Regions from separate parts of the Homo sapiens genome. Here all the other regions are reported to be linked to region 1. Evidence: microRNA targets listed by miRTarBase, many of them from high-throughput screens and not tested one by one. Region 1 holds a microRNA gene; each other region holds the end of a gene's coding sequence.
The links. Region 1 holds the annotated microRNA hsa-miR-2681-5p (GUUUUACCACCUCCAGGAGACU, at 1,743-1,764, opposite strand). A microRNA usually pairs through its seed, bases 2 to 8, with sites in the 3' UTR of a target mRNA and lowers its output. Matches are read on the target gene's strand: a 7mer-m8 pairs with bases 2 to 8, a 7mer-A1 pairs with bases 2 to 7 and ends in A, and an 8mer does both.

Region 1 (5,094 bases):
CCACACATCACCGTCACCAGAACCACAATCAACTTTTCTATTCCTGTACCTAAATTTTTCTGAGTGCTTAAATATATCCAACAACAGAATTAAGGGGAAGGGAAATGTTCTGGATTGAATTGTGCCCACTCCCTAAAAAATGATAAGTTGAAGTTTTAAACTCCATTTTCTCAGACTGTAAGCTTATTTGAAAACAGGTTCTTCACAAAGGTAAGTGGGTTGAAATGAGGTCATCAGGGTGGGCTCTATTGCCATATAACTGGTGTTCTTATAAAAATGGGAAATTTAGACACAGAGAAAACACACTTATGCAAAAAGAACACCATGAGAAGATGAAGGCAGAAATTGGGGTGATGATTTACGAGACAAAGAATATCAAGGATTGCCAAAGACCAATGGCCACTTGCAGAAACTAGGAAGAGGCAAATACAGACTCTGGAGGGAGCATGGTTCTGCAGAAACCTTGATTTTGGACTCAGATTCCAGAACTGTTAGAGAATAAATCTTGTGGTTTTTTTTGTTTTTGTTTTTGTTTTTTTGAGACAGAGTCTCGCTCTGTCGCCCAGGCTGGAATGCAGTGGTGCCATCTCGCCTCACTGCAACCTCCGCCTCCCAGGTTCAAGCAATTCTCCTTCCTCAGCCTCCTGAGTAGCTGGGATTACAGGTGCCCACCACCACGCCCAGCTAATTTTTGTATTTTTAGTAGAGATGGGGTTTCACCATGTTGGTCAGGCTGGTCTCGAACCCCTGACCTCATGATCCACCCACCTCGGCCTCCCTAAGTGCTGGGATTACAGGCGTCAGCCACCGCGCCTGGCCAAATCATTGTGTTTAAACCACTCAGTTGTTGATGCTTTCTTAGGGACGACCTAGAAATACAGAAGACAGAAGGATCGTGAGACAGTTCGTTATTGTTTGGCGAACTGTAGCTGGACTCCGGCTCATATAATGAAAGAAACTTAAAGGAATGCCTAAGAATATTACTCTACGAGTGTAAGAATTTGGTTTGTCAGTTTAAACTGATATCAGCAGTTACCTAAACCAAGTTTTTTAATAAGAACATCCAGGACTGACATAATGCTATTTTGTTCAGCTCTTTGAAAAACAGCACAAAGCTAGCATCTCTGTGACATTCATTAGGTTCTGTAGCACAACATCCCAGAGGATGCTTTTGGGCTTCCTGCATCTCAGTCACTTAGAATGAACCTTAAAATTCAGATTTTTCAAGGCTCATCCCAAACCTACCGAATCAAAGTGACTTCTTCTGTTGAGTAAGAATGTCTGAGGGTGGAGTGTTCTATTGAGTCAGAATGTCTAAAGTCATTTGTAAACTAATCTCAGATAGATAATCCTTGTATACATTAAGAGAACCACTGTCCTATGTTTACTTGACTGTTTTCATAATGTTTTCCTTCTGATTGTGGTAAAGTTAAAATTGTTTTGAGCTAAATGTGTACCAATATCAGTTTCTGCAGTATAAACAAAGCTTGATTATTTCAAGGTCATGCAGTGAGAACATTTATGCTGTGTGGGAGGAACCTCTAATTCCTTCTAATGAATAACACAAGCAAAATACAAGAAAAACAATGCAAACACTGGAAGGCATAAGTAAGCACATCTGTTTTTAAATGTTCTCCTCTCATTGATTCCTCTAATCAAGGTGCTTCTTTAGATAGCTTACACGTTGAATTATTCATGCATCTGTGCTTTACCAACTCCATGATACTGAAGAGTCTTTGGGCAGTCTCCTGGAGGTGGTAAAACACAAATGCGTGAAAAGGGGGCAGAGAGCATATCTTTGCTCTTGATGTCTTTTTAACCTCTATTGAATCCTCTACAAAACCTATTGCATGGCTTAGACACATTAAACACCCAATAAATTCCTGCTGCCTAATCAGAAGGAAGAAAATCTGATACATGAACACTCCCAGGATAAAATGGGGTGATGGCTTGGACATGCTGGTAACAGAGGTAACATTTTCTATTTCCAAATTGCAAGTTCACCCATAACTGTAATGGAGATGAGTCACTGGGTCAATGGTCATGCTGTAAATTTGTAGCTCTCTGCTAACACTTGAAAATAATTCTTAAAATGATTGTCTTCATTTTATTAGCATGACTGATGACTTGGAAGGGAATCTATAATTGATTACATTCTACAACCAACCTCTGTTACTCAAATGAGTGAAAGTGCAGTTATAAGTAGATAAATCTTGTCTAAGAAATGAAGATAAATTCATATAAATGCATAAAGGTGAAATTGTTATGTAATGGCTATGCCTAATTTATTAAGCATGTCATAATAAGCCTGACAAAAAGTCTAAAAAATATTTTTTGCAAGATACTGAACAGTAACAAAATATTTTACCTGTTGGATGTACAAAATCTTATTTTAACAGCTACTGAACACATTAAAAAAAATACAGCTTAGGCTGGGCGTGGTGGCTCATGCCTGTAATCCCAGCACTTTGGGAGACCGAGGCAGGCGGATCATGAGGTCAGGAGATCGAGACCATCCTGACTAACATGGTGAAACCCCGTCTCCACTAAAAATACAAAAAATTAGCCAGGCGTGGTGGCAGGCGCCTGCAGTCCCAGCTACTCGGGAGGCTGAGGCAGGAGAATGGCGTGAACCTGGGAGACGGAGCTTGCAGTGAGCTGAGATCGTGCCACTGCAATCCAGCCTGGGCGACAGAGCGAGACTCCGTCTCCAAAAAAAAAAAAAAAAACCTCAATATCAATATTTCCTGTATTTTATACTTAAGAATACCACAATTACAAAAGTCACAGCCACAAAAGTGTGAGATCATACAGCTGCCAGACTAAGTGTTCCCCCACAACTCTTTTAACTCACTTTTCATTTGTTCTGTAATCATGCATTCCATCAACAGCCTTTTTTTTTTTTTTTTTTAAATCTGGGCATTGTTTGAGTTGAAAAAAGCTGGGGGTTTGGAAGCAGGGAGGGTACTTTAAGGAAGATGGGTTTTTATCACCAGGTCACTTTCCATCCACAATTCCTTGGTATGGACAGAAGAGAAGGGCATGCCTAGAGCCTGAAGCTAGCACAGAACTCACTAGTTGAAAGAAACAAGGATGGTCAGTGGAAGGGGAGGTAAGGAAAATCTGGCCAGTGGGCTCCATGCCTTGGAGTCATGCTTAGATCCACCTTTGTGAAGGGGTGGACTGCCTAGGTCTTCATAACTACCTGTGCCAGCACTTAGCTCATAGTTGTCACTTATCATGGGTGGGTAAGTTACCAAATAAACAACTTCATCTGGTCTGGTTACTGGGGATTGAAGGATAAGAAACGGTATAGTCTAGGCTGGGTGCAGTGGCTCACGCCTGTAATCCCAGCACTTTGGGAGGCCGAGGTGGGCGGATCACAAGGTCAGGAGATCGAGACCATCCTGGCTAACACGGTGAATCCCCGTCTCTACTAAAAATAACAAAAAAAAAGAAATGGTATAGTCTAGTGTTTCTGGCTGTTAGTCATTGGTAAAGCCAAAATACTCCTGCCTTTGAAGTTTCCTGATGCCTTCTAAACATTATATTTCAATCTGGTGAAGGAATAGGGCTCTAATGAGTCATTTGTGAAACCCTAATCAATAGCCTTGTGGTCTCCCTCATTTCTTATTATCATTGCACACACTACATCCACATGACTGCTTGTAAGACTATTTTTCACCGTAAATTGAACTCAAAATTTGCATATTTCTACCAATTTTAAATTTTGGCTTATGTTACATTTTGTATGAACAAGTTGCTGCCTAGAGTAGAAAAGTGGCATCCAATTAGAAAAAAGGAATTTTTATTTGATGAGGCCCTGAGTTGTGATGACTGGGGTGAAAGGAGAGGTTGGGTGGAGGTTGCTCTATTGTTCTAGTCTACAAAACACCCCATATCTTGACAATGAGTGCCTTTAAAGGGCAAAAACTGAGTGTTCATTTCTTTTAAGTATTCCTGCCGGTAGCAAACATTCGTAATTTATGGGTCAGAACATTTCAGATGCTTTCTCTTCTGGCCTTATTGTCATCTGCCTTATAGCAATCTCTTAATCTCTCTTGATTGTCTTTTATTTTATTCAAGATGAATAATAGTGTGGCAGCTTTTGCTAATTCACTCCATTGGTTATCAAGTCTGGGAGACCCCACTTAAATGTCATATTTTGAAGATGAGGGGACTGAGGCTCAGAGAGGCTGAATATTTTTCGGTTCTTTACAGAGACAATACACAGGAGATCTAGACCTTGTATGCAGATCTTTGAACTCAAAGCCTATTTTTATCTTCAGTACAACAGGAAACATTTATTCAATTCAATTTATTCCCAGTATGGGTTTAAAATTAATTGCCCTTATATGCAATACATTTTATTATTTTCATATGGTTCCTTCAACCAAAAACATTTTTGAGATTCTCTTGTAATTTGTTCTGTCTAGAGGATCCCCTGAGTGACTTTTCAGGATTGCAGATTAATCAAATATTCAGATCCTGGGATCTGCTTCCGCTCAGAAAACAATACCCCAAGGCATGCCTCTTTGACATGCTGAGTACTTCCAACTAAAGAAGCCTTAGAATCAAGGTTGCTTTGACTTTCTTCTGTCCTGTGTCTTTTGCCCCTCTGCCTCTCCTAAAGCACAGGAAGGGGATTTCTTTGGAGTCTCCATGTCTGACTGTAAGGAAAGTTCCACCAGAAGAAAAAATGCATTTGCTCTAAACGCCTTCCTTGGAATCTAAATTAACCAGAGAAGGTGCAGGAGAGCATATTAAAGACCTCCCCACCCAAAACACTACATGCAGACAGACTTTTCATCTATTCTTCTGTTTTGTCTATTCTGCTGCCTGAGAGACTTTGTCTGCATAATAAGACCACTTTTGTTCATAGTGCATTCACTCTACCAACCCTCCCATAGCCTGTCACCACCACCCTCCAGGAGCCTTGAAGCCCCTATTTCTCTCTGTAGCTCAAAATGATATTTAAGAGTCAACCATCTGGCCCTTCTCTGAGTCTCATATTTTTGGGGACTCCTATGCATATGCACATAGTTTATATGCTGTTTCTTCTGTTAATCTCTCTACTATCAAGTTATCAAGTTT
Region 2 (5,094 bases), not on the chromosome of region 1:
GGAGCTGGTCTCGACAACACAGCGTTGACACAGCGGCTGAGTCTGCCGCCCTCCCCAGAAGAGGCCTAGATGGGATACCCAGTGGGGCAAGAGTCTAAGACTGGTCTCCCGGGCCCAGGGCCTCCCAGACCTCCGCTCCGCTTGAGTGGGATCAAAGTGTATTTCCGCCCCACTCCCGTGACCCCTGCAGTTGAGGCCCGGCCTCACCTCGTCTGTGGCGCTGACAGTCTCTTGTTTCTGTTCCCACCGGGGTCCGCAGGCGACCGCAGCCCAAGGACCGAGGACGACGGTGTTGGCCCCAGAGGTGCACACGTGTCCGCGCTGTGCAGCGGGGCCGGCGGCGGGGGCGGCAGCGGGCCGGCAGGCGTCGCGGAGGAGGAGGAGGAGCCGGCGGCGCCCAAGCCACGCAAGAAGCGCTCGCGGGCCGCTTTCTCCCACGCGCAGGTCTTCGAGCTGGAGCGCCGCTTTAACCACCAGCGCTACCTGTCCGGGCCCGAGCGCGCAGACCTGGCCGCGTCGCTGAAGCTCACCGAGACGCAGGTGAAAATCTGGTTCCAGAACCGTCGCTACAAGACAAAGCGCCGGCAGATGGCAGCCGACCTGCTGGCCTCGGCGCCCGCCGCCAAGAAGGTGGCCGTAAAGGTGCTGGTGCGCGACGACCAGAGACAATACCTGCCCGGCGAAGTGCTGCGGCCACCCTCGCTTCTGCCACTGCAGCCCTCCTACTATTACCCGTACTACTGCCTCCCAGGCTGGGCGCTCTCCACCTGCGCAGCTGCCGCAGGCACCCAGTGAACCCGCTTGGGCTGAGGCAGCGAGTGATTCCCGCGCTCCGGCTCCGGACCGGCGCTGACAGCTGTAGGCTGTAGCCTGCACGGGGCGCCCCGCCAAGGAGGCACCTGGAGGTGAAACCCAGCTCCAGCTCCCGTTAGCCAGGACTTGTCCCCTGGCAGCTGGGCTGAGTCTGCCCTGAGGGGGCGCCTTTTTCTAATTTGAACAGAGGCACCCTATGGCCTAGGGGCCCTGATCGCCCACCTGCCTGGAAGCCCCTGGGCTCTATTTATTATCATGACAATGTTGGAATTAAATTTTGATTCGAATATGTCTGCCTGGGGGTGGGGTTTTCCCTGAGCGGCAACTCCTGGAGACCACATAGCCTGAATCCTCAGAATTTCAGGCCTGCTGGGAGCTTTCTGCACTAGGCCACACTAGTTCATGGTATCCATGCTACCAATCTATGTGTATCTACATATCTTTTATTTTTGGAAATTGCATTTGTAACCAAGGGGTGCGAAACCCTGGCAGTCCCAGGCAGCACCAGGCCAGGGGTTGATTTGAAACGTGAAGGATTGGGTTTTCAGGCCCTCTGCTCCACCCCTCCTGTGTGTCAGAGCTAGGGTGGGGGTGCCCGATTCGGGTGCTGAATGTAAGGAGGGGAGCCTCCAAGTGTGGTGCAAGCCGGGGGTCTCCACATCTTCCTTCTCTGAAGTCCAGGTACCTGCACAAGCAGGAAGCGCCTGGGAGTCCCGGAAGGAGGAGAGCGCACACCCAGGCAGCCCTCTGCGGAAACTTTCCTTGGTTTCTTTTTATTTGTGTAAAGGAGGTTAAGACGTGTCGCACTTTTCAGTTGTTTGTATTCAAATGACGATTATTTTTCTACTCAATGTGAATATCCCTGGCCAGCCTTTCCACGGCGCCCACCGCAGTGCCGCTGCCTGGCCCTCAGTGTCTACCTTCTGCCCTCTGCGACTCCAGTGCTCTGGCCCGGGACTCCCCTATCCGCCCCTCACTTACCCTTAAACAGGTGATCCCACCTGTCTTGTCAACCTCGCCGCTTTTCGCCTCCTTAATGGCACTGTGCACTCAACTAGAGTATTAACTGTAAAAAGATTTGTGAAGTTTGGAAGCTCTATTCGCTGTATTTTTTCTTTAATTTATAAACTTTTAGTTTAACATGCCCTCCTGGACGCCGCGTTTTCTCTGAAACTGTCTTTTCCCGACTTTTGGGGAACCAGTAAGGCGAGCTGGAAATAGCTGGGGCTTTTTCCAACCTCCTTTTAGTCTCGGACCAAGGATGCTTAGTCTCTCCTGGGAGCAGCCCTGCTGCCCGCCCACTCCTCAGGCAGGTTATAAACCTGGGCAGCTCAGAAAAATCATGACTTCGGGGGCTTTGCAGGAGTAATGGATGAATCCCACTGAAACCGGGAACAAATTCCTAGGATTTCTCCCCATCCTCCCTGTGAGCATTGGTTTCAGAGCCTAGTAAGAGTCCATGGTTGAACCCCCAGCCAATGTCCATCCCCCATCCCAATGTACCGACCCTTTCATCTCCCCTCACCCCACCCCACCCTGTTCTCTGCTTTCGATTTTAGGAGCGTTTCTCTACCTTATCTAGTGTTTAGTTTTGAGAGTGGTTTAGTGAAAACTCCCGCTAAAATTCTGAAGCGATTAGTTGCAAACCAGGCGTGAATAACCTGTCTCTCGGAGAAGGGTCACCCGAGCGTTTTCCTCGGACGGGTGCAATTGGGGCTCTACAAGGTTTCAAAGCGCTTCCCCGCACTCAATGAAAGGGCGTCATTTGGTACACACCGAAGCCCACCCGGGGAGCAGAGAATGGGCAGGGCACCGTTATTTATTACCCCATTTTACAGATGATCATACGCAGCTGGCGCTCCCAGACTCCCCAGAATGCTACGGATTCACTGGAGCTAAATGCTCACTTTCACTGGCAGCTCAAGCCGAGTTCCCGGCGAGCAAGGAAGAGTTAATGCCACATTGCGGGCGTTGAGGCCTCCAGTCCGCTGGACCCGAGTCGGGAAACACCAAAACCCTGGCCAAGGCTTCTTTCAATTTCACCTGGGGCCGAAAGGTCGATTAGCTCTCCAAGGCAACCGCGACTTTTCCCAGCCCCCGGGCCTCCAAGCTTTGGTACCCTAAAGGCCTTGGCCTGGGGTCCCTCAAGCCCTCGGATCTGGCCCGGGCGGAGCGTGGTGACCAGCGTTTTACAAAATTATCCCCGCTTCCAGAAACAGCAAAATGTAAAGGGAGAAGCAAAGGCCCTCGGGATATGCACACTCCCACCCGGTCCCCCACTGGAGTCCAACTACCTTCCATATGGTTCTTGCAATCATCTCGTTTCTTTATAAATGCAATCATCTCGTTTCTTTATAAAATGCTTTACAGTTCTATTTAAATTATACAATTAATCATGACTGTGTTTTTCTTGTAGAGAGTTGGAACATTTCCGATAATACTAGAATCTCCTCCCTTCTTCTCCCCAGGGATCACTACTTACTGAGGGGTTTTTTAGGAGGAGGGATTTTCTCCCTTTCTGAAAAGGCAGTTGCTTGTTGCTGCGTCTTAAGAGGGTAGTTTGTTCTCCATCTTTGCCGATTGGGCGGTGAAAGAATCCGGGAGTTTCTTTAGAGTAGGAAAAGCCACAGAGGTCCCGGTCGCACCCCTGGCGGCTCCATCTTCCACCGCAGACTCCACCTACCCTGCGGACCCGGGCGCCCCTTCCCTTTCTCTCCCACTCTCGGGCCCCCTGCCTGGGCCAGCTCCGCGGACTGGCTCCGGCTGCCCGGGGAAAATGACTCAAATGAATTCAGTTTGATCCAGATTATGGCTGTTTCCCTCCAAGCTGTCCCGCGGTTTGCCTTGGCGAGAATGCCCTGAGGTCTGATTCTGGGAGCTGGAGGCGACCTCTGGGTCCAGCCTGTCCTCCAAGGAGTTCTCGCCGTATTTTGCGACCCAGACCAATGTCTTTACCTGGGTCTTCTGCCGCAGACGCGGCTCCCGTTGAAAATTTGCAGTATTACTTTCTTCCTTTTCTTTACTTTCTCCTCTATCTTCTCTCCGCCTTTCTCTCTTTTTTCTTTCTTTTTTCTTTTTTTTGGAAAGATGAAGAACAGTCCTGCTCCCTACTCGAGGGTATCTCTGTTCACCCACTGCCTGCATCCCTGTGCTGCGCTGAGCCCTCTCGGCCTTCTCTGGGCTTGGTCCCCGGAGCAGTAGCAACTGCCGCCTGGGCCCAATGAACCTTGGGCCTCTTCATCGTTCTCAGTCCCTTTGGCGCTTAGCGAATCTTAGAACTTGGCCTTGGGGATTTTCGAATTAGATCCACCCACTCTACAGATGGGTAAACCAAGGCGAGGGGAATGGCTGGTAAAGGGGGCGGAACATCATGTCACTTGCACTGAAATTGGTCCCAAGGATTCAGGCCGAGCCCACAAATCTTACTCCTAGCAGCAAATTTGGGATCAACCAGCTGCCAAATGTAGCTGGTGGGTCTGCGTGTGTGTATGTGTGTGCGCATGCGTGTGTGTGAGAGAGAAAGAGAGAAAGAGAAAGAAAGAAAAAGAAAGAAAGAAAGAAAGAAAGAAAGAAAGAAAGAAAGAAAGAAAGAAAGAAAGAAAAAGAAAAGAGAGAGAGACAGACCTGGCTAGTCCCAAACCACATCTCATTTCAAGAGATTGGGTATGAGGGCCTCTTGGATCGCCAGAGAGTATCTTAGATGAGCAGGCTGAGTTGAGACTGGGTTCCGGTTTAGAAAATAAATGGTTTCCAGGCTGCACCGAATCCCAGCACCCTCACTGCTCCCCCACGCTGGTAAAGGTGACAGGGTGACAGTGAAGCATCATTCGAGAAGATTGTAATCGGGCTCAAACACAAGTGCCTGCCCTCTGAGTTGGGGCTCAGGCATGTCAGTGCCCAGAACCCTGAGAAACTGGGCCCGTGGAAGGGTGACATCTGGGGGCTTTTGAGGAGTGGGGAGTGTGCTGAATGCCGGCTCCTGGTTTCCTCTCAGGGAAGCGCTCTGGAGCAGACCCCGGCAATGGCACACTGAGCATCCTATAAAGGCAGAACCTCATCCCGGGTCTTCAGAAGTCCTGCCAAGCGGGGGTTCTAGGGCTCTAACTCCCTAACCGGCCGCTGGAGCTCAGCACCAGCCAGGCCAACAATCCACTCTCCTCTACCCACATTTCAGTCCGTGTTTGGGAAGAAAATGTGGAATATGGCTTTCTCAACGCAAAGTTCACGAAGTTTAACTCGCTTTACAGAAAGGCTCCTGCGTTGCAGAGGGAATATGAACAA
Region 3 (5,094 bases), not on the chromosome of region 1:
CCCACTTACTAACCTGGTCCTAACCCCCTTACTGTGCGCGTGTGTGTGCGTGTGCGCACGCTCTGGCTGTTTGTCTATATGTCTAGCTCATCTAGTTCCTCTTCTTAAGGGGATGGGGGTCAGGGGCTAGGGGAGGGGGCTGAGTTTCCCCACTTTAGGAGGAGGTGGGGGCTATTTCTATGCAAATAGAAATCAGCACATTCCTCCTACTTCCCTTTCCTCCACTCCCCCCATATCTTTAAAGTGTGGAAGCAGAAAGGACCTGCATTTTCCTACATTGAGGAGCTGACATAGGGGTAAGGTATGGGAGAGGTAGGTGGATCCAGGGAAAAGCAGTGGGGACGGAAGGCAAAGAGACCACTCAACCCCCACCTGGAAGGGGCAAAGAAAAGCCAGAGTTCCATGTTTGTACTCCTGTGCTGGACTGTTTCCTGAGTACCAGCAGGTCCCTTTTTGTCTCTCATGGGCCTAGCATAGGTATGAGCCAGGGATCCTTTCCTGGTCCCTAAGATCAAACCCCATGGAGCAGCCAGCGTTAGATGCCCCCACCCACCTGTACTCTGGAGAGACTGTGCTGGGAACATGTACCACTGAGCCTGAGATGGGGATGAGGGCAGAGAGAGGGGAGCCCCCTCTTCCACTCAGTTGTTCCTACTCAGACTGTTGCACTCTAAACCTAGGGAGGTTGAAGAATGAGACCCTTAGGTTTTAACACGAATCCTGACACCACCATCTATAGGGTCCCAACTTGGTTATTGTAGGCAACCTTCCCTCTCTCCTTGGTGAAGAACATCCCAAGCCAGAAAGAAGTTAACTACAGTGTTTTCCTTTGCACCGATCCCCACCCCAATTCAATCCCGGAAGGGACTTACTTAGGAAACCCTTCTTTACTAGATATCCTGGCCCCCTGGGCTTGTGAACACCTCCTAGCCACATCACTACAGTACAGTGAGTGACCCCAGCCTCCTGCCTACCCCAAGATGCCCCTCCCCACCCTGACCGTGCTAACTGTGTGTACATATATATTCTACATATATGTATATTAAAACTGCACTGCCATGTCTGCCCTTTTTTGTGGTGTCTAGCATTAACTTATTGTCTAGGCCAGAGCGGGGGTGGGAGGGGAATGCCACAGTGAAGGGAGTGGCAGAATCAAATTGCTACATAGTCCAAACAAAAAAGAAGGCTTTTTCAAAAAACATTAAATTCACATGCAGTCTCAGAGACTATTTAGACAAAGTTCAAGTTAGGAGCTTTTAGGATGTGGGAGTAAAACTTTAATGGGAGGGGAGGGCTGGCTGCTGGAAGAAGGAAGAAGCCAGACTGGTTAGACAGTACTCTTAACTCCTAGCCCAGCCTAGCGTGCCCTGCCCCTCTGGCCACTGCTGCAGACACCTGCCTTAACACACACACCTCTAGGACTCCACAGTTTTGCCTTAAAGGACCTTCCCAAGTCTCCCTTTCCCTGTCTGGCTTCTCCCTTAAGAAGAGAGAGATACTTGTAGAATTGGGTGGGGGGAATGAGCATGAACTGTCCTTCCATTTGGGATATGTTACATTAGAGTGAGAGAGAGAATAAGGAGCCTTTCTTATGGAAGAAATGGGAGAAGAGAGACAGGGTTCTTTTCAGCAGAGTCTAGTAGTTTCTCTGTAAGGCAAAATAATCTAAAAAGACTAACCTGCCCACCCACTCCTTATATTGCTGTGAGATTGCCCCTATCTTGTGCTCTTCTGTCTGCAGTGTGCACGGCCTTGTTCTAACCCGGAATAAAGGTGATTGATTGTATTGCAACTAACTGATTTTAAAATTTCTGTGAGTGACCAGGATTTTGCAGGCTTTGAATCACTGGGAAGGGAGGGGGAACAATATTTATGGCCCAGAATAAGGGCTGGGAAAATACCCCAAGTGTATACCCTCACCCCACCCAATCTCCTAAGTATCACTGAGCTAAATGGAGTGTATCCTACTTCCAACAGTCTCCAATTGGAGCCCAAGCACTGGAAATACGGGTCTCCCAAAATGGACTTTCTAACACTGTATCATGTGCAGAATGAGAGGGGAAGGCTAGGTACCTACATTAGTAGGAACAAAAACCATCCATTGTGAATAAATGGACCACATACCACACAGAGCAGCAGTCGGGAGAAGAAAAGCTTTACTGGGAGAAAATACAACAAATTCCAGAGTGCATGGTTTTTAGCCCACCCTATCACCCCACCAGCAATAGGAACACAGACCACTCGATCACCACACATTCCCTACCTCAGGGAGTAAGTACAGCAGCCAACATCTGGTCTCAGAGCTGCTGGGAAAAGGGGCAGGAGGAAGAAGTATCTGGGAATACCATTCTCTCACTCTTTTCCCCTCCTTCCTGGCCTGATTTAGAAGAATCTGACTGTCCCAGGATACAGAATTCTTGGTTGGATCTTGTGGAACTGGGGGCAAAAAAATAGCAGCAAAAGCACTTAAGGGCAAGAATTCAGCTGGGACTTTCAGACTCAGTGACCAGTGATAAGACAAGTGCCCAAGCTCCAGCCACTGTAATCAGTCCTTAGATTAATGACTTATTCCTCAATCCTAAAATATCAAGAGGTGGACAAGGTTTAAGTCAAACCCAGGAAGTCTTTCCCTTCACTCTTCTATAAAGAAGGGAACTGGCATGAAGTTGGATGGCTTAATGATCAAGCAGCTAAAGGTAAGAGAGACAGAGTGAGAGAGTGTGTATGTATGTGTGTGGTGTGTGTGTACATGTCTTCTGTCACAAAGTACCACAATAGTCTGCAGTGGTGGCACCACCCTAAAGTAGTTAAGTTTTAAAGACAGGCCAGCCTCTGGTTAGAAGAGCCATCCTTGGAACCCCCTACAAGACTTAAGGAGAGGTAGGAGATCTGAGGCAGAGCTGAGAGGAATTTCCTGTTTTTCCCAACCCCTACACCAAAGCAGGGAACCAGGAAGGGCAGAAATGAGGATCCTTCCATTCTCAAGCCTCCTAAAACCTAAAGGGTAAGTCCCAATCTCTAGTGACCATACACAGAGGTAAACTGACCCCAGGTGTCACTTCCACACCATTACTCTTGTTCACTCTTAAGTCCCTTTATTGCATTCAGAGAATATATAGGTATTTAAACTTTGACAATAATTTTACCTTGATACATCCAAGTTTGACTTGCTTTTTAATATATTTATAGATATAAAATTAGGCCTCTAACAGTGATAGGGACAGGGAGATTGCTGCCACCAAACAATGTTTCTTAAAAAAATAACAGAAGAGGTAATATCCTTCCTATTCTTCCTTCACTTCTGCCCCTCCTCCCACCTCTTCCCAGCCTCCCTCACCTGACCTATTTAGGGGGTGATGGGATGAAGAGAAGAGAGTGAAGGATATGTAATCAAGTGCAAAATACTGTGGTAAGTACAGAGAATGAATAAGGTGGAAAGGAAAGTGAAGAGTGTGGGATGGTTAGGGGCTTTAAGGACTTCCCAGGAAAATAGGATTCTGGGATGGGGTTGCTGGGGGTGGGGGGGGAGCCAACTGTCATAAACTTTTAAAAAACAAAGGAAGAAAAGGTCAAAAACCTAAACCAAAGAGAGAGTGGCACTCCTACCCTCCACTCTGGCCCCTTGGTACTGAATAGCCAGTTGTTCCCCCCACCCCTCCCCCAGCCCAAGAAACAAGGGAGATTAAAGAAAAAGAAACCCCATTCCCTATCCCAAACCAGTTAACAAAATAGGCTTCCCTCTCCTCTCAAAAAGAGGCTTTGGGGAGAGGCCATTTCTGCCGAGTCCTATGCACCTCTCCATAGAGCCCCATTCCAGGGCTCAACTCCCATTCCTAGGTACTCTTTGTTGGTTCACTCCTCTGGTTTGTCCTTCTCCTGGGATGTCTTTCTTTTATCTAAAGCAAAAAGTCCAAAGTGCGTTTCTGCTGAATGTAGGGCCTGGGACAGGAAAGGGTTGCCCAGGCAGGATCAGGTTGGCAGCCCCAGCCTGCCCCACCTAGGTATGAGGCCTCAAGATGGCATGCACTGCACCCGGTCAGGGCCCTCCTCCTCGTCCGATGTGTCTGAGGAGCTGGGAGACTCATCAGAGTCCGCGTCTGTGGCCCCAACCCCAGGTTCTCGCCAGCGCTGTGGATGGGAAAGGCTTGTTAGTAACTTCCCTGGATGGAACAAGGACAAGCCTGTTAGGTCTTAGCCAGAATTTAGATGCTTTAGGCCAGAGATCAGCAGAATTTTTCTTAAAGGGCCAGAGAGTAAATACTTTAGACTTGTGGTCTATATGGTCTTTATTGCAACTATTCAACTCATTGTAGCGTGAAGGCCGCCACAGACAATACACAGAATGGGTATGGCTGCAAGCCAATGAAACTTTATTTACAAAAACCAGCAGCAGGCCAACTGCCAGTTTGCCAACCCCTGAACTAGGCCTCTTTTGGCATAAGAGGAAAAATAGAAGGGTCACACTGAGACTTGTTATTTCTTCTCAATTCCCTCCTCCACCCTCCAGCTTTTGCCTTTATGAAGATAGCATTACACATGGACGGCAATGGACAAAAGTAGATACCACCCTTTTCTGCTGATGTCTCTTCCAAGGCTATATCAGGGATCTGATGGGGACAGAGGACAGTGGATAGGAAATCCGACCAAGATCACCTGATTACTGCTTGAAGTCACTACTCTGGAACTTTTTAGCCCTCTTAAAAGGGTCACTCCCTTGGGAATTCATTTCCAACCCTAGCTTACCCGGTGATGGCGTCTCTGTCTCAGGTGATGCATAAGGAACCACAGCATGTGACTATCAAACAGGTCAGTTTGGTGCAAGCTATCTTCATCCCGCTCCCGCTTGTTCTTCTTAATCACCTGGAACCCAAAAAGGTTGGGAAGAGGGGGCAGCAATGAAGAGGAACCCGGGACCTGATCAAGAAGGCTGATCTCCTATCCCAATAAAAGCTTCCCTTAAGTTGAAGTGGAGCTACATTAGATTAGGAAATGATGCCCTAGGTTCAGCTGCTGAAAAGGTAGCAGGCTTTAATACAGAATAATTCTTAAAGATGCTCCTTATCCCCATCCTATTACAAATTAGTGCCACTTCAC
Region 4 (5,094 bases), not on the chromosome of region 1:
AGAAATTATAAAAGTATTATTTGGGAGCAGATAAATGTCCATATTAATATGAAATCTTCACAATTTATGTTCCTCTGCCGCGGCTCCAGCCGGTCCCTCTGTTCAGGGTCCCTGAGTTTCCGCAACAGAGTTCTTTATTGTGGTTATAAAACCTTTATCAGATACATGATTTGCAGATATTTTCTCCCCTTCTCTAGGCTTCTTTTCACTTTGTTGATAGTGTTCTTTGATACACAAAATATTTTAATTTTGGTGAAGTCCAATTTATCTATTTTTGTTTTTTTGTTACTCATGCTTTTGGTGTCATATCTAAGACTCCATTGCCAAATGCACAGTTATGAAGATTTACCTGCCTCATGTTTTCTAAGAATTTTATGGTTTTAACTCTTTTATTTGGGTGATTGATCCATTTTGAATTAATTTTTCTATATGGTATAAAGTGGGAGTCCATATGTTGCATGTGAGTATCTAGTTGTCCAAGCAACATTTGTTGAAGAAACTGGAAAGACTTTAAAATGAATATGTCCTATGTTGATTTCTTCATTATTGTGATTGCTCTGGGAGCACTTTAAATAGCTATAAAGAAATGTCACAAACCTTTATTATTATTATTATTATTATTATTATTTTTTTTTATTTTTTTTTTTTTTAGGTCAACCTCTGGGAGCACAGAACAATGTTTCAATATTTTTTTTTTTGAGAAGAAGTCTCGCTCTGTCACCCAGGCTGGAGTGCAGTGGCACGATCTTGGCTCACTGCAACCTCTGCCTCCCAGGTTCAAGCGATTCTCCTGCCTCAGCCTCCCAAGTAGCTGGGGTTACAAGTGTATGGCACTGCACCCGGCTAATTTTTTGTATTTTTAGTAGAGACAGGGTTTCACCATGTTGGCCAGGCTGGTCTTGAACTCCTGACTTCAGGTAATTCACCCGCCTTGGCCTCCCAAAGTGCTAGGATTACAGGTGTGAGCTACCACGCCCATCTAGAACAAACTTCTTATGTTTTCAGTATTTTTTACAAAATTGAAGAAATCGGCTTTTTGATAACTTTTATTAGATAACATTTGTCTTCATCTAGGTTGACAAGTGCACTAAAATATCAGACTCCACCACTATACAATTCACCCACGTAACCAAAAACCACTTCTACCCCAAAAGCTACTGAAATGTTTAAAAATTAAAACATTTGGCTTCATCTAAATTAAATTAATGGAAAAAAGCCAAATCAGCTTTTTTTTAGTCTGTATTTTTAAAAATTAGCCTTACTGAAGATACTAAACTGAAAAAAAAAATTTATGCATCTTAAAACAGATTAATCAAACTTTATTGACTCTAAAAACATTCTTACATTGGTAACTTTTATTTTTCAGGGTGAAGATTATATAAAGATGAGTCAGTGATTGAAGCCAATATTCTGATTCCCATGGAAGATGGATGGGCAAGAGTGTACTTCTTGGCTCCATTTACTACCTACTGCTCAGTAGTCATCTCTGTAAATCTGCAATTTCTACCAAAATGTGTGATCGTAGATCTCAAAGGATCTTGCTTTAACTTTCAACACTTAGAAAATCTACAAACATTCAGACCTGTCTGGGTTGGTATTGCCACCCATGACATTTAACATGTTGTGATGCTTGAAAACACAGGAGTAGAGAAAATCGATGAAGATTGTATTTTTGCACCTTAACTCCACATTGCTTTATTGGTTAATTTATATTCTTTCCATGTAATTCATGTAATTGTATGTCTGTGTGTGTTTTATGTGTCACCACCTTTCATGTTTTTGATTGCCCTACAAAGAGAAACCAAATGAGCTGATTACTGACTATAAGTTCTCAGCCTTTATGGACCTAATCTTATTTTTATTTACTTGAGTAATGTTTATTCTCTGCATGAACCATGATTTCTCCTGTGAGCCATTCCAGCATAAGCTGTGAATATGTATTAACAAATATATACATTTCTATTTTTATAATCCATAAGGATATGCCTGTTTTAAATAACATACATATTAACAATATCTATCAGGAAAACCCTCAAGACAGCTTCTAGTTAAAACCTTTGTTGCTGTCCTCTCAAACTATATTTATAAAAATTTGCTAGGGCCAAATCCATACTTGCAGAATAATTCATCAAATTTTATTTTTAAGTGAAAAGTAACCTTTCAGGCATTTCAGCAGCATACATTGACAATCTAGGGTATATATGTATGTATGTTTCTTATTGTATGTCTATATATGTATGTGGGGAGGACAGGAGTGAATGTTCACACACTTTTCTTGCGTACTCAACTAAATTGGAGAATGTTTCTGAAGAAAATTGGATGAAATTAGCTGCTGAGATTGAGTTTCTGCCTTAAAATCTGAAACAAAAAAAGGGACAAATTGCTGGTAGATCTACTGACTGTAGCCATCACCAGAACACTTAGTTTCTTCCCAGACATGAATTTCCTGACAGGCTCTGAGCCAGAAACACACTGTGGGCGTGCATCTGGTTCAGCCCTGGATATGCCTCCACTGTGGAGGGAAGCATTGGAACTGGAGTTGTGCACAGCACCGCAGCTAGTGGGCCTGGCTGGGGGTGCAGAAGGGCAGGGTAGTTCTTTCCATTTCCCCTTGCAGCTACACTTACTTTCTCCCTGACTACCAAATGGAGTGACGGTTGAAGAATCAAGCTCATAATATGATACACCCAGACAGACCCAGAAATCTTTTGATTTCCCCAGCGAGATACTTACCACTCTCTCTTCTCTTTCCCATGGTTAAAACAGGAGTTGTGTTCTCTGTCGCTGCTAAATTATTCTTCACTTGAGTGAAGCAAATATTTAGCTTCCAAATAAAGTATATTTTGTTCTGAACTGGCAGTTTAAGAGGAGATACCGTAGTCTAGATTGTCTTTGAGGTAGAATATATGATGGACCACATAGTTTAAGATTACAAGGTACTTTCCCTCTTCTCTCAGGCCATGCATTTGAATAAAGTGCCTCCCTTAGCCTGAGCTCCTAAAGACCTCTTGTACTTGGTTGCAAACTCAGATCTCTAGTCTAGTCTAGTCTAGTCTAGTCTAGTCATGTGTGACTGTGTACTGAGATACCACTAGCCCAGTTTGCTGGGTCTCTATGTTTTGGAAGTTGGGGGTTTAATAATATTTAATGTCTTTTTAGGATCATAAACATAAATAGGTTTGTTGATATTCAGGCCTTCAGAATTTAAGGGTTTTAAATATAGCATTCAGATTGTAATTGGTATGTTTTTGCCATCTGGTCCACTCAATTGTATATTTTTATTTTGCAAAACAACCCAAAACTTACTTTATGTTGCTTTGTTCAGTACCTTTTGAATTCCCCCAGAAGAGTTGTTTTCAAAACAAACATTCCAGAATGAATGTCGCTCTTCAATGGAACGTCTTTATTGTGCTTGAAGTATTTCTTCTCTGGTTGTAATTCTAAATTACAGAGTCATTTGAGCTTTCTCCCCTCCCGCTAGTATCTTTACAGGAGCAGGGAAGAGCAGTAGAGGATGTATAATTTTGGGCGAAGTTAAATTACAATTTATTTGAGGTTATTCCTAAACCTATTTATTTGGTGTTTTGGAGGAGATCACACACTAAGAGAACGTTGATTGCCTCGGCTATTGTGCTGGCTGGACACTTTGGTCACTTTTGAAGCATGTTAATAAATGTCACTGATTAAAACAGCTGGAGCATTTCCTTCCCTTTCCAGTGAAGGAGCAGCATAGTGAAATCCTGGCACCCCTCACCTTTTTGTGATGACAAGATGGCTGACAGTCACGGAGTCCAGGAGAAGGTGCTGCTCTCCTTGCTTTCTGAGTAAACAGAGTAATGTTTTTTTTCTTATTTTCCCAAAGAAAGAAAAGGGGGAAAATATATTTGTATGTTTAGACCAGCCAAATTCTGTCATTATTTTAGTATCAACCTGCTGTATATTAGAGCAACTGAATATAATATGGAATAAGTTTGACCAGGTCAAGTTTTAGGATATAGTTGAATTTCTTTAAAAAGTTTTCTATTTTATCTAAAATCTTTCCATTATATCTAAATTAGAATGATCATCCTGCGCAAATTCAGATTACTGTTTGCTGGCTAATTGACAGTATTTCTCAGCATCACTATGTAGCATTCTGTTTTAGCATCTTTGAATTATGATCATTTGATTTGGCTAATTACAAAAAGTACAGGTTTAAACTGGACTTAGCTTGAGTTAAAGGCAAAGAAAATCTAAAAACATAAATGTTATATTTCACAAGAAATCAGTTGCATATTATCCATTACATATTTAGTTTTAAAAGGAGGAGTCACCTTGAATTATTTTCTGAGTCACCTTGAGTTATTTGATCTCTCAGCCTGCTTTCTCATCTGTAAAAAAGGGGGGAGGATAACTTTCACAGGGTAATTGGTAGGCTAAATAGGAGTTACAGAAAACTGTTAAATAGGGAAGAACTACATTAAATTTAAATATTCACATTATGCCTGTGTTTGACTATTGTTAGCATTTAAGTCACTAAAGATCAATATATTTAATGAGTTGGACTCTAAATATGTGGTACTGTAGGTATCACATTTCCCAAGTCTTTTTAGCTATATCATGTCTATCTTCGGAATGGTATAGTCGGGGGCCCTTTTTATCAATAATAGCCTTCTATTAATTAGACTAATTTTAAGAACAACTAATACTTCAACTGGCAATATCATCCTATAATTATCCACATAAAGTAGTCTTTCAGGCTGCTAGGTAACTTGGCTGTCTTCTATTCCATCCGTTTTATTTAACTACACGATGGTCATGAATCAGTGGCAGGACTGCCTTGTAAAGTTGTGCTGATTTTGCACTGCACAAAAGTACATAGTTAAGGAGGCGAATGGACTTTAAAATCTAGTTCACATTCCCCTCAACAAGCTACGTGTGGAGGAAGGGGCTCTTGCCTTCTCACCAAGGTGTACATGTGGCACAGGTCTCCCCAGAAGAGGTGTCTTTTTCTAATTTGCCCAAAGGGGATACCTGTCTTAATACATCCACCAGGGGGTGCCTTTTTAAAAATGTGCAAAGCCGTGGTGTGTTGCAGCTGGCTTTTGCTGGCTC
Region 5 (5,094 bases), not on the chromosome of region 1:
TCAGCTGGCTCCATCTCATCCCTTAGCTGGGACTCCTCAAGCACAAGCCACCATGACGCCACCCCCAAACTTGGCATCCACTACCATGAACCTCACATCTCCTCTGCTTCAGTGCAACATGTCTGCCACCAACATTGGCATTCCTCACACGCAGAGATTGCAAGGGCAAATGCCAGTGAAGGGGCACATTTCCATCCGCTCCAAGTCTGCGCCACTGCCCTCTGCGGCTGCTCACCAGCAGCAGCTGTATGGCCGTAGCCCATCGGCAGTTGCCATGCAGGCTGGCCCTCGCGCACTGGCTGTTCAGCGTGGCATGAACATGGGGGTTAATCTGATGCCTACTCCCGCCTATAATGTCAATTCCATGAATATGAACACCTTGAATGCCATGAACAGCTATCGAATGACACAGCCCATGATGAACAGCAGTTACCATAGTAACCCTGCCTACATGAACCAGACAGCACAGTATCCTATGCAGATGCAGATGGGAATGATGGGGAGCCAGGCCTATACCCAGCAGCCTATGCAGCCTAACCCTCATGGGAACATGATGTACACAGGCCCCTCCCATCACAGCTACATGAACGCTGCTGGCGTGCCCAAGCAGTCACTCAACGGACCTTACATGAGAAGATGAGCAAGATGAACTTGCAATCAAAAACTTAAATATATATAAATAAAGGAACCTTTTATACTGACAAACCAGAGAAAAATGGACCTTTTTCCAGTTAAAATATTGCTGTAGATTTAGAGGAATTTTTCTTTGGTTTATTTTATTTTTTAGAAAACCTGATCTTCTCTTTTTTTGGGTTCATTTTGTTCTGGGTTTTGGTTTTCTTCACAATCTTGAACATTTTACAGTAGAACTCATCTAAAAATGGATTTGGGGATGGGGAAACATGCACAAAATCTTTTCATAATTAAAAAGAGCCTTACTTTCTTTACATACCACATGGACAGAATTTGTGTAAAAGTGAATTATCTTTATTTTAAAATGTATGTTTCCCCTCACTGTTTGCAGCTCCCAATGTTGTCATTTTTAAATGTTATATACATCTCAAGGGTTAACCAGACCCTTTCCTCCAAACCCAACCTTTCATTTCCTACTTCATTCCAGCAGGAGGCACTTAGGGGAGACTCGGATGGGGACATGGAGAACAACCCAAGCTCCTTAAACTTATTATTATTGTTAATATTATTATTATTATTATTAATAAAGTGAGGCAGGAAAATGCTTCTCCTTTTAAAATCCCCTCCACTCCTCACACACACACACCTCTTGAAACCCTTCCCCAAGAATGTTTCTTTATAGACGGACTTCATTGAAATCTTTGTTGTTCTTGAATCAAGTGTAATATAATTTTTTTCTTCTTTTTTAAAATATTCCCACTCAGCACTCAGAGACACAAAAATACTGTAAGTCTCAATTAACAGCAGAATCTCAGAGAAAAGCTGTTTGCAATCCAAATCCAGCCTTTGGAGGAATAGAGATGGTCAATTAACAATCAAAAAGAGGAGATTAACCTCTTGTTTTTTTACCACCTGGTGAATCAGCCATAACGCACACACACGCCACCCAGCCTCTTGTTTCTAGTATGTACTTTGAAATGCTAACTGAGGGTCTTGATGCTTGAGCCTTTGACTGATAAAACTCAAATAGCAGTCCCCAGTGATTTGCCTCTTAGGTTCTTTCTTAAATTGTTGGTGGATGACTGTACATTTTAGTGATTTGAAAAATAACTGACAAACCATTGAAACAGTTTATTTTATGTTGGAAGAGATGGCGCAGATGTGTGTCAGAAGGGAGATCACGGTGTGAGTTTCGTAGCTATTTAAGTGATACATACCTCTAGTTTTTGTATGTCTTTTGAGATCCTGAGTTCATCCCCTGTGAATCAGAGTGCACAAGCACCTCTCCTGTGAGTGGCTAATGAGAAGAGGGACAGACCGACCACCAGCACAGTAGGGCAGATCTGGACAGCAGAATGTTATAACGCAAGTTCATGTGTTGCTCCCAACTCCATTCTCTTTTCTCTCGTGCAACCAGTTTGCCCATTCTCTTCCTATTACTTGCTCCAGGGATAGGTAAAAAAAAAAAAAAAAAAAAAAAAAATATATATATATATATATACACACACACACACACACACACACACACATATATATATATATATATTCCATCATTAGAAGATGGAAACTATTATACCACTTGGTATGTGCAGTCAAATATCCAAAAGGGGGAAGTACTGCTTAGAGAAATATCTGTAAGCATTAAATTCTCTCCTTTATTTGTACATTTTATATAGATAAATTTTTAAAGTACTAATTAGGCATTAACTTTTTTCAAATGCACAGGTTTGTTGGTTTTTTTAATACACTTTAATTGACTTTCTCAAGCGTGCTAGGTAGAAACGCAGAATTCCACATCTTCCCGCTCTCAGCTCTGAGCATGTGCAAGGCTGTGTAGGACCCAGTTTCTCTGTATATACTATTCCAGTTCCCAGTCATCTATGTAGAAAGTGCACTGTGCTGCCATCGCCCTACATCTTCAGCTGTGTCATTGCTTCCTGGTTGGGGTGGGGACGGGGTGGGTCGGGAGGGAGGTATATTGGGAGGAGGGTGGGTCAAGGCAGAAGGAGAAGCTGTTGAAATGAGGGCCGTGAAATCAGTTTCTGTTGGTTTGCGGTTGTGTTTGGTTTTGTTTGTTTCTTTATAAAAAATTCAATCGGGCAGCTCCCTTTTCCACAAGCCTCTTTGTGACTGTAGAACTATTGTAGAAAAAAAAAGTTCTTTTCTATATTATAAAAGAAATTATCCAACACAGTAATATTGGTACCTGTCATTTTTTCACTTCTGTTTAAAAAAAATGTATTTTTAGCAAGATAACTTGGGTAATCTTCTAAAAAAGAAATTTAAAAACTCACTGTTAGTGACTTTGATGCCTTTTAAAATAAGAGCTTTTTCATTTCATTCCATCTTTAAAATTTTTTATCTTTGTTGTAGAATATTAAAAACTATTTTAAGAAAGATAAATTCTCTTTAAAGAGATCTCTAGCGTGTGTGAATAGAGCTCCAGATGCCTCTAAAAGCCGCATGTACAAAGGAAGCCACGTCTATCCTGTCTGTTTATATTTGCTTTTCCTGTTTTGTAACCTCTTTGTACTTTGTTCATGGTGACTTGTAAGCTAAGGGGAAGGGGTGCCTAGATGCCTTTGTATCTCTCCATGTCACGCGCTCCTGGGCCAGCCGGCCTCCCTTCCTCTCCTTGTATGTAATACCTTTTTTTCCCCTTTCTAGCAAGTACTTTCAAAAGAACTCTGTACATTTTAACATAAAAAATAAATTATGTTGAGCCATTTTGGATGTCTGTCTTGCATGTGGAATTTTTCTCCCTTCCCAGTATGTCAGAACTCTTCAATTCTTGTTCTACACCCAGAGACCTATAAACATTAGTCTTTTCATTTTCCTCTTTATTATAGGAGTACAAGTCCATGGCCTTTGCTTTGAAATTCCAGTTTTCATTTATGTCTGTGTTTAAATGCCAACAATATGGATGGGTTTTCCATTTCCAAGGAACATGGCACGGTAACCCTACTTTGGATTTTGTAGGGGCATTCATATAAAAACCTCCTAAAGGGATTTTAATTCCCGTCCCCCCCACTCCCCTAAAAAAAAGCAATTGCAATAACAAGTAGCTCCTAGACTTGTGATAAATGGGAGGAGTAATTTTTATAGATCTTATTTTATAATGTAACAGTATTTTTAAAAGCGTTGTGGGTTTTTTTTCATTTCATTTTACCTAATTGGGTAATCTAGGAAGATTCGTCATTCTCCTTTTGCCAGAATTCAAGGCCCTGAATGCTGATTACTTTTTGGTGGTCTCTTGGGTTGTGTTTGCCTCTCATCATTTAGAATTGTGGACAGGAGGCAGAGTCCAGAAAATTTGATTTCACTTTGGGAAATTGGCCTTAGTTTCTGGTGGTAGGCAGTGAGGCAGGTTCAAGTTTTAGCGGCCTCCACACTTCCTCTGCCCCTTCACACTGAGGAATTGAGGAACTGTACATGATACTACCTATAGCAGACATTTGTTCTGAATTTCATGCTGTTTAAAGTTTAGACAGTATAGTCATGTCATCTCAAAAGGAATGATGTATGTCCGTTGATTTCTTGGCTGGCTTATATAACCATTATTTGGACACAGGCTGTGTCACTGTGCTATGCAATTACTAGTGGATTGTCTTGAAAACATTCTTGCCTTTGCCACTGAAGAGTATTTGCTTTAAGTGATTTCAACATAAACCAATTATGTTTTTTCAATATAAGAGATAATGTGGCCAAAGACTATTCTAGACTTTCAAAAAACATACATAAATATATTTATATTGCATTTAAGTATTATTTGAATTATATAATCCCATGTATAGCCAAGGAACAAATGAGTTGTTCGGAGTAGGGGAGGTGCTCCTATTTCTTTGTTGTCTCTCCACCTCCTGCTGACAGTAGATTGGGGAGGATGACACACTCAATGTGTGTGATACTGAGAACCCTAGTCCACCAACCTGTCGTCGAACTTTCAGAAACTAGAGCACCAGGAATCACATTCTTTTAAAGCCTTTCTGGGCACTTTAGGTGGTGCCTGGCTTCCTTTGTAGCATGGTGACACCTGTATGAACTCCCTAAACACCAGTCTTGGCAGCCTCACAGTTCCAGCTCTTTAGGTGAAAATTATTATTTCAGATTATCCAAATCACAGCTCAGGCAGTGTGGTGATTTTCGTCATATTCCTTCCTCTAGTCTTTTCATAATGTACAAGATGTGGGTCAATGGTGATGGTAATTGAAAGGAATAGTGAAAGAAACAAAAAATGCTATCTTTGGCAGAACAGAGTATGCAGGATCCTTATGATGAGTGGTGGGGGAAAGGAGCTCTACTTATTGATGTGATATTCAAGAAACCTAAAAATTCAAATGAATGATTCCTGTAAACTCAAAATATCATTTAGAGTAACATTTTTAGTGTTGACAAGTGTCTGGAATTCTTTTTTTTTTTTTTTTTTTTTGAGATGGAGTCTCGCTCTTGTCGCCCAGGCTG
Region 6 (5,094 bases), not on the chromosome of region 1:
TGCACAACTTTTAATCTTAGTGCAGGGTCTGATAAATAAGACATAGTAATAAATCAGGGTTTTTTTTTTTTTTTTTTTTTTACCCATTTCTAACAATTTTTACTGTAAAATTTTTGGTCAAAGTTCTAAGCTTAATCACATCTCAAAGAATAGAGGCAATATATAGCCCATCTTACTAGACATACAGTATTAAACTGGACTGAATATGAGGACAAGCTCTAGTGGTCATTAAACCCCCTCAGAAAGTCTAAGATTCAGAATGTCTCCATCATATTAGAAGAAAAATGTACTGTATTAAAATTTAAATTGCATTTTTACAAGTTGTTTTTTAATTAGTGTTCTATTTACATTGCAGAACTTCCACCAACTGCAGTAGTTTAACTTTGGCACAACATTAAGTTCCATTTCTTTTGGGTATTGGATCCTGCTTTTTGAGTGTGTATGCCCCAAAACGTTTTCAATGTCATCAAAGATTGGGCAAATTCACAGTAAATCAGACATCTTGAGTTGAAGAATTGATTCTCCTTCAACGTTTTAGGCAGCTAAAAAAGAAAAACATCATAAAAAACTGAAAATTTAAAGAAAACCATATTTTAATTTTTACTACTTTTAGAAATAAAAGTGAAAATACATCTTTTGTATTCTCTTGAGATTACCTGCCACATATGTCTTCCATAATACACTAGGCTTTGTGTGCAACTCATCTATGTATATGTTCTTCATATGCTAGATTTGCTTATAAACATTTATCATCTTTATGTAATAATTTATTTCAAACTGTATGAGCAGGGAGTATATATTTCATTGTCAGTATCTGTAATAAGCAGACTATGAAATCTAAAGACTTGTACTTTTTTCTATTTCTATACAAGGTGCAAAAGATATATATGTACCTCACTTCCTGTAATAACTATTTTGGGAAGGTTTTGGTAACTTTTTTGGTAAATTGAACAATATTTAAATGAAGAAATAACTATTTAGAGAAGGCTATGGTGAATCCTCTTATAAGTGAAAAATTATTTTACTCAGCCAAGGATAACTTGATGTTTCAGAAATTTAGACTTTTGTGTATTTAAAAAGGCATGCTTCTATGCTATCACAAAAGTATATAATATGGTTTGGCTCTGTGTCCCCATCCAAATCTTACCTTGAATTGTAATTATTAAGGGACAGTGATACCACAAAATCTTATTGTTTCAACATATGTAAATAGGCTGTTTTTACATTTGAAATTGTATAAGCCCATACATAACTTTTAATCAGGGAGTGTCGGGGGAGGGAGCCTGGTGGGAGGTGACTGAATCATGGGGGTGGACTTCCCCTCTGGCTGTTCTCATGATAGTGAGTGAGTTCTCAGGAGATCTGGTTGTTTGAAAGTTGTGTGGAACATCCCCTTTCGCTCTCTCTCCTGTTCGGTCATGGTGAGATGTGCTTGCTTCCCCTTCTTCCCCTTCGCCTTCTGCCATGACTGTAAGTTTCTTGGGGCCTCCCAGTCATGCTTCTTGTTAAGCCGGCAAAACTGTGAGTCAACTAAACCTCTTTTCTTCATAAATTACCCAGTCTCAGGTCGTTCTTTATAGCAGTGTGAAAATGGACTAATACAGTGCATGTATAGCATACATCATACAGTCTTTTGAAAACTGTAGTTTTAGGATGAATTTTCTGACCAGAATTAGTATCCATTACAGTGTTAATATATAACATAAGAATTATCTATACAAAATTAAAGGTCAAACTAAACTGTACAGAAAAATTCACATTATTTTTGGAAGACTGCAACTCCCCAAAAAAATCATTGCAGAGGTTACAACAACAACATTCACTGCAGCAACAAATTTGTTGATTTAATCTTGGCTGAGTGCACATTCTTGTGTTTAGCAATAAAAAAAATGCCTGTTAAAAATATTTTATGTATCTGGGTCAGAAGAAAGCCTGCTCTGAAGATTTCTGACATTAGGAAATGGAGGGCTGCACTTCAGGATAAAGCTGTATGAAACTGTTTAACTTCTTATAACCTAAAATGATTACATTATACCCTATAACCTGGAATGATATTTATACTGCTTATTAAAACAGGTACATTTTTAGTTTCATCTGTTATCCCTTAAAAAATATTAACAAGGAGAAAACCTGAAAAAGGATTGCCAAGCAGTAAGAATAGTGCCTGGTACATATTAAGCTCTCTATAAATAATTGTTAAAATAAATAAAACCAGAGAGAAGATGTAAGGGAATTAAGGAAAAACTGCACAGAATAACAGAGCATAAAAGTAGGGGATGGGATACTCATGCAAAAAGCCAAGGAAATAAGTAAGCATGCTCACGTATAAAATAATAATGAGGGTCTACGTCTCATTTCCTTCCTTACTGTTTGAACACAGCAGTCATTTCTGATAGCAAGATGCTATTTGGACTACTGACAGACATACACAAACATTTCATGACAACTGCATTGTTTTCAAAACAGTGTACTTTTACCCCGGAACACTCCAAAACAAAGAATAGCAAAGAATAAAACTATGTTATTAAATTCCAGAAGTATTAAGAATTCAATTCCTAACTCCAAAGCAGGTATCTGATTTGCAACTACAGTTCAACTTTAATTAATCCAATTTATAAAAGAACTAAGATTTAAGGAACATGCCAAAACCTTTCAAATTTAAGCCATATTTATTTGCATTTTTAAGACTACAGAGATATACTTTAAATCAAATACAATGTTAGTGCTGGTAGCAGGTTTGTTTTATACCAAAGAATGAAAAGATATTTTAAGCAATTGGGTTTATATCAAATCTGTTATTTGCCTTTTGATCTCTAAAACAGAAATAATTTATATCACAGTTTTCAAAGACAGATGCCGCCTAAGCAAACATGAATTTATATATGGCCTAAAACAGACCTTTGACTTTTAACAGAAAAAGATATTGAGTAATTTTATAAATTACTAAAAAGATACTGAGTAATTTCATAAATACATAAAGCATTTTAAACTCTAGTTAAAAGTCTAGTAAAGTTTTGGGAGCAATGCAATGAAGATGAAAAGATACCCATTTTCACCTAGTTTCCTAAAACTGCACAATCCTCAACCCTGTGGTAAGTCTTTCCTTTGGTGTACTTTTCCCCTTCTTTTTAGTTTTCATTTTTGAATTATTTCCTTAAATAGGCAAAAAATGAAGCTTTAGTGAAGGGGGCATTGCAATAAAATACATTTTAGTTATCTTTAGTATTTGTTTGTGAATCCCCTCAACCTGCCTGCCAGTCTCCCTTCATAGAGATTGGGTAACTTTCCTTCAAAACAAAGTAAAAAAAACCCAATTCATATGAAAAATAATAATTAAGACATTAAACTCTACATAATAATAATAAAACTACACATGATAATCATTTATCTCTTAGCTATACTAGTGGTACCTAGTCTTATTAGGGAAAAGAAAAACTACTTCAGAAAATATCAAAAATGAAGATGACTGATACAACAAGGTGACTGTTCAAAATGTATGTGGTTGATGAACATATACGCAGATTAAAAATTTTCTTAACTTACATTTCAGTCATCTGATTTAGACAGCTTCCGTTTCACATGTCGTGGAGGTTCCCAAGTGTCACTATCATCTGTTTCTTCTTCATCCTCTTCCTGGTCATCAATAACTTCATCTTCCTCCTCATTTTCCTCAAATAATTCTATACCTAATTCTGATCTTCTCTGTCTTTCTGCAAACCACTCTCTGACCTGCTCATAGCCCATATGTGATTTGTTAACAAGTTCATCAAGGTCTTGCTCATTAAGAAACTTGTGCTTCAGGTAATAATCCTTAAGTATTGCAGTTCCAGTTTTAAATTTTATGAGTGATGGTCCCCTGTCCCAGTTGTTAATTCTTTTGCTTCCTCTAGGCCGCCCACGCGGTCTTCCTCTTCCCCGTCCTTTGGGTCTCCCTCTCCCTCTTTTCCTAAGGGAAGACAGACCATTCATACTACTTGAATTGGCGCTCTGATAGTAGTAGTACCATTTCAAGTTTCCATTCTTCCAAGCATAACGGGTGTCCCCAAACCAACTAACTATGTCTGTTCTAGCAAGCCCGCTTTCTTTGGCCAACTTGTCATACTCTTCTGGTGATGGCCACTGTGTCCGGACAAATGCACTCTTAAGCATGTGCAGCTGCTCAGGTGTTTTTTTACATATCTTGCCTGTACTCCCTGACTTAGGTGCACCAGATTCATCTGCAGGAGAAGTTTCTCCAGCTTCTTCTTTGGAACTACCTGCATTACTTTCATCTATTTCCATTTTCTCTTCCTTTAAAGCTTTTGATTTCTTCTTCTCTGTAAACCAAGCATCGATTTCTCTTCTGGTAAGTTTGGTTTGTGCCCTTAACCTATTTAATTCTTCATCTGTAAGTACAGAGCTGTTGAGAAAACTTGCCTGAAGGACACGAAGCTGCTCTGCAGTTTTCTCTTTAAACTTTTGGGGAGTAAAGTCAGGAAAAGGATTCCAGGATTGCTTAGGCTGTGCAGTACCAACAGTTGGGGATTCCGTGGTTTCATCACTGGAGTCTATAATAATGGTGGTAGAGGAATCATTGTTGAGATGTAAGCACTGATTACTCTTTGAATTTCTCTGGTTGTACCTTGTGTCACTAAACCATTTTTTAATCTCTCCTTTCGTCAGGCCTGTTATTTTCATAAGTCTGATAATTTCTGAATCATGGGGAAACTGATTTTTAAGGTAGCTAACTTTTAATTCTGCCAGTTGCTCTTTTGTCTTTTTTGCCCGAATGCCAAATGAATCAGGGTTTACCAATGCAGTTTCATGTTTGACACTTTGAGAAGTTGGAACTGCTGCTGTTGCTGGCTTTGTTTCTGCAGTAGGCTGAGCAGCAGGTACCTGACTTTTCTGTATATTATTTTGACTTGGAACGCCTGCCACTGTCAAGGCTATAGGTGCTGTAACTGGCAAGGTGTTTGTTCCAGCCACTTGAGTAAGGACCAGACCAGGCTGACCAACTATTTGGCATGTCTGTAAAATAGATGGTAAACCATTACTCCCTGTGGAAATGTGTGTAGGAATAACAGTTATGGTCTGAGGTACAGTATGCACTGT

Region 2: the mRNA of NKX3-2 is a reported target of hsa-miR-2681-5p. Seed matches in the 3' UTR shown: 7mer-A1 at 1,882-1,888.
Region 3: miRTarBase lists DCAF8 as a target of hsa-miR-2681-5p. Seed matches in the 3' UTR shown: 7mer-m8 at 3,141-3,147.
Region 4: the mRNA of CREBL2 is a reported target of hsa-miR-2681-5p. Seed matches in the 3' UTR shown: 7mer-A1 at 4,373-4,379.
Region 5: miRTarBase lists KAT6A as a target of hsa-miR-2681-5p. Seed matches in the 3' UTR shown: 8mer at 2,088-2,095.
Region 6: the mRNA of ZHX1 is a reported target of hsa-miR-2681-5p. Seed matches in the 3' UTR shown: 7mer-A1 at 312-318, 7mer-A1 at 97-103 and 8mer at 77-84.

Annotation. Positions count from the first base shown.
Region 1 is chr13:101,965,962-101,971,055 of GRCh38, forward strand. MIR2681 (microRNA 2681) reads right to left here and starts at 1,785; the gene lies at 1,681-1,785. It also overlaps a transcript of FGF14 not described here.
Region 2 is chr4:13,537,694-13,542,787 of GRCh38, reverse strand. It overlaps NKX3-2 (NK3 homeobox 2), which reads left to right. Exons shown (of 2, transcript NM_001189.4): 2 at 260-1,958. The coding sequence ends at 795. Among named protein-coding and RNA genes, the nearest start is that of NKX3-2, 4.3 kb to the left of the region's middle. RefSeq lists a silencer at 355-484.
Region 3 is chr1:160,213,581-160,218,674 of GRCh38, forward strand. It overlaps DCAF8 (DDB1 and CUL4 associated factor 8), which reads right to left. Exons shown (of 14, transcript NM_015726.4): 13 at 4,744-4,860; 14 at 2,140-4,128. The coding sequence ends at 4,012. PEA15 (proliferation and apoptosis adaptor protein 15) reads left to right here. Exons shown (of 4, transcript NM_003768.5): 4 at 1-1,792. Among named protein-coding and RNA genes, the nearest start is that of PEA15-AS1, 7.3 kb to the left of the region's middle.
Region 4 is chr12:12,640,628-12,645,721 of GRCh38, forward strand. CREBL2 (cAMP responsive element binding protein like 2) reads left to right here. Exons shown (of 4, transcript NM_001310.4): 4 at 1,367-4,481. The coding sequence ends at 1,371. Among named protein-coding and RNA genes, the nearest start is that of CREBL2, 31 kb to the left of the region's middle. RefSeq lists an enhancer at 2,685-3,884 and a silencer at 4,909-4,968.
Region 5 is chr8:41,927,751-41,932,844 of GRCh38, reverse strand. KAT6A (lysine acetyltransferase 6A) reads left to right here. Exons shown (of 17, transcript NM_006766.5): 17 at 1-3,366. The coding sequence ends at 640. Among named protein-coding and RNA genes, the nearest start is that of KAT6A-AS1, 120 kb to the left of the region's middle. RefSeq lists a silencer at 1,480-1,774.
Region 6 is chr8:123,249,779-123,254,872 of GRCh38, forward strand. It overlaps ZHX1 (zinc fingers and homeoboxes 1), which reads right to left. Exons shown (of 4, transcript NM_007222.5): 3 at 3,544-5,094; 4 at 1-542. The coding sequence ends at 3,547. The region is part of intron 2 of ZHX1-C8orf76 (ZHX1-C8orf76 readthrough); the gene reads right to left. Among named protein-coding and RNA genes, the nearest start is that of C8orf76, 11 kb to the left of the region's middle. RefSeq lists an enhancer at 1,267-1,476.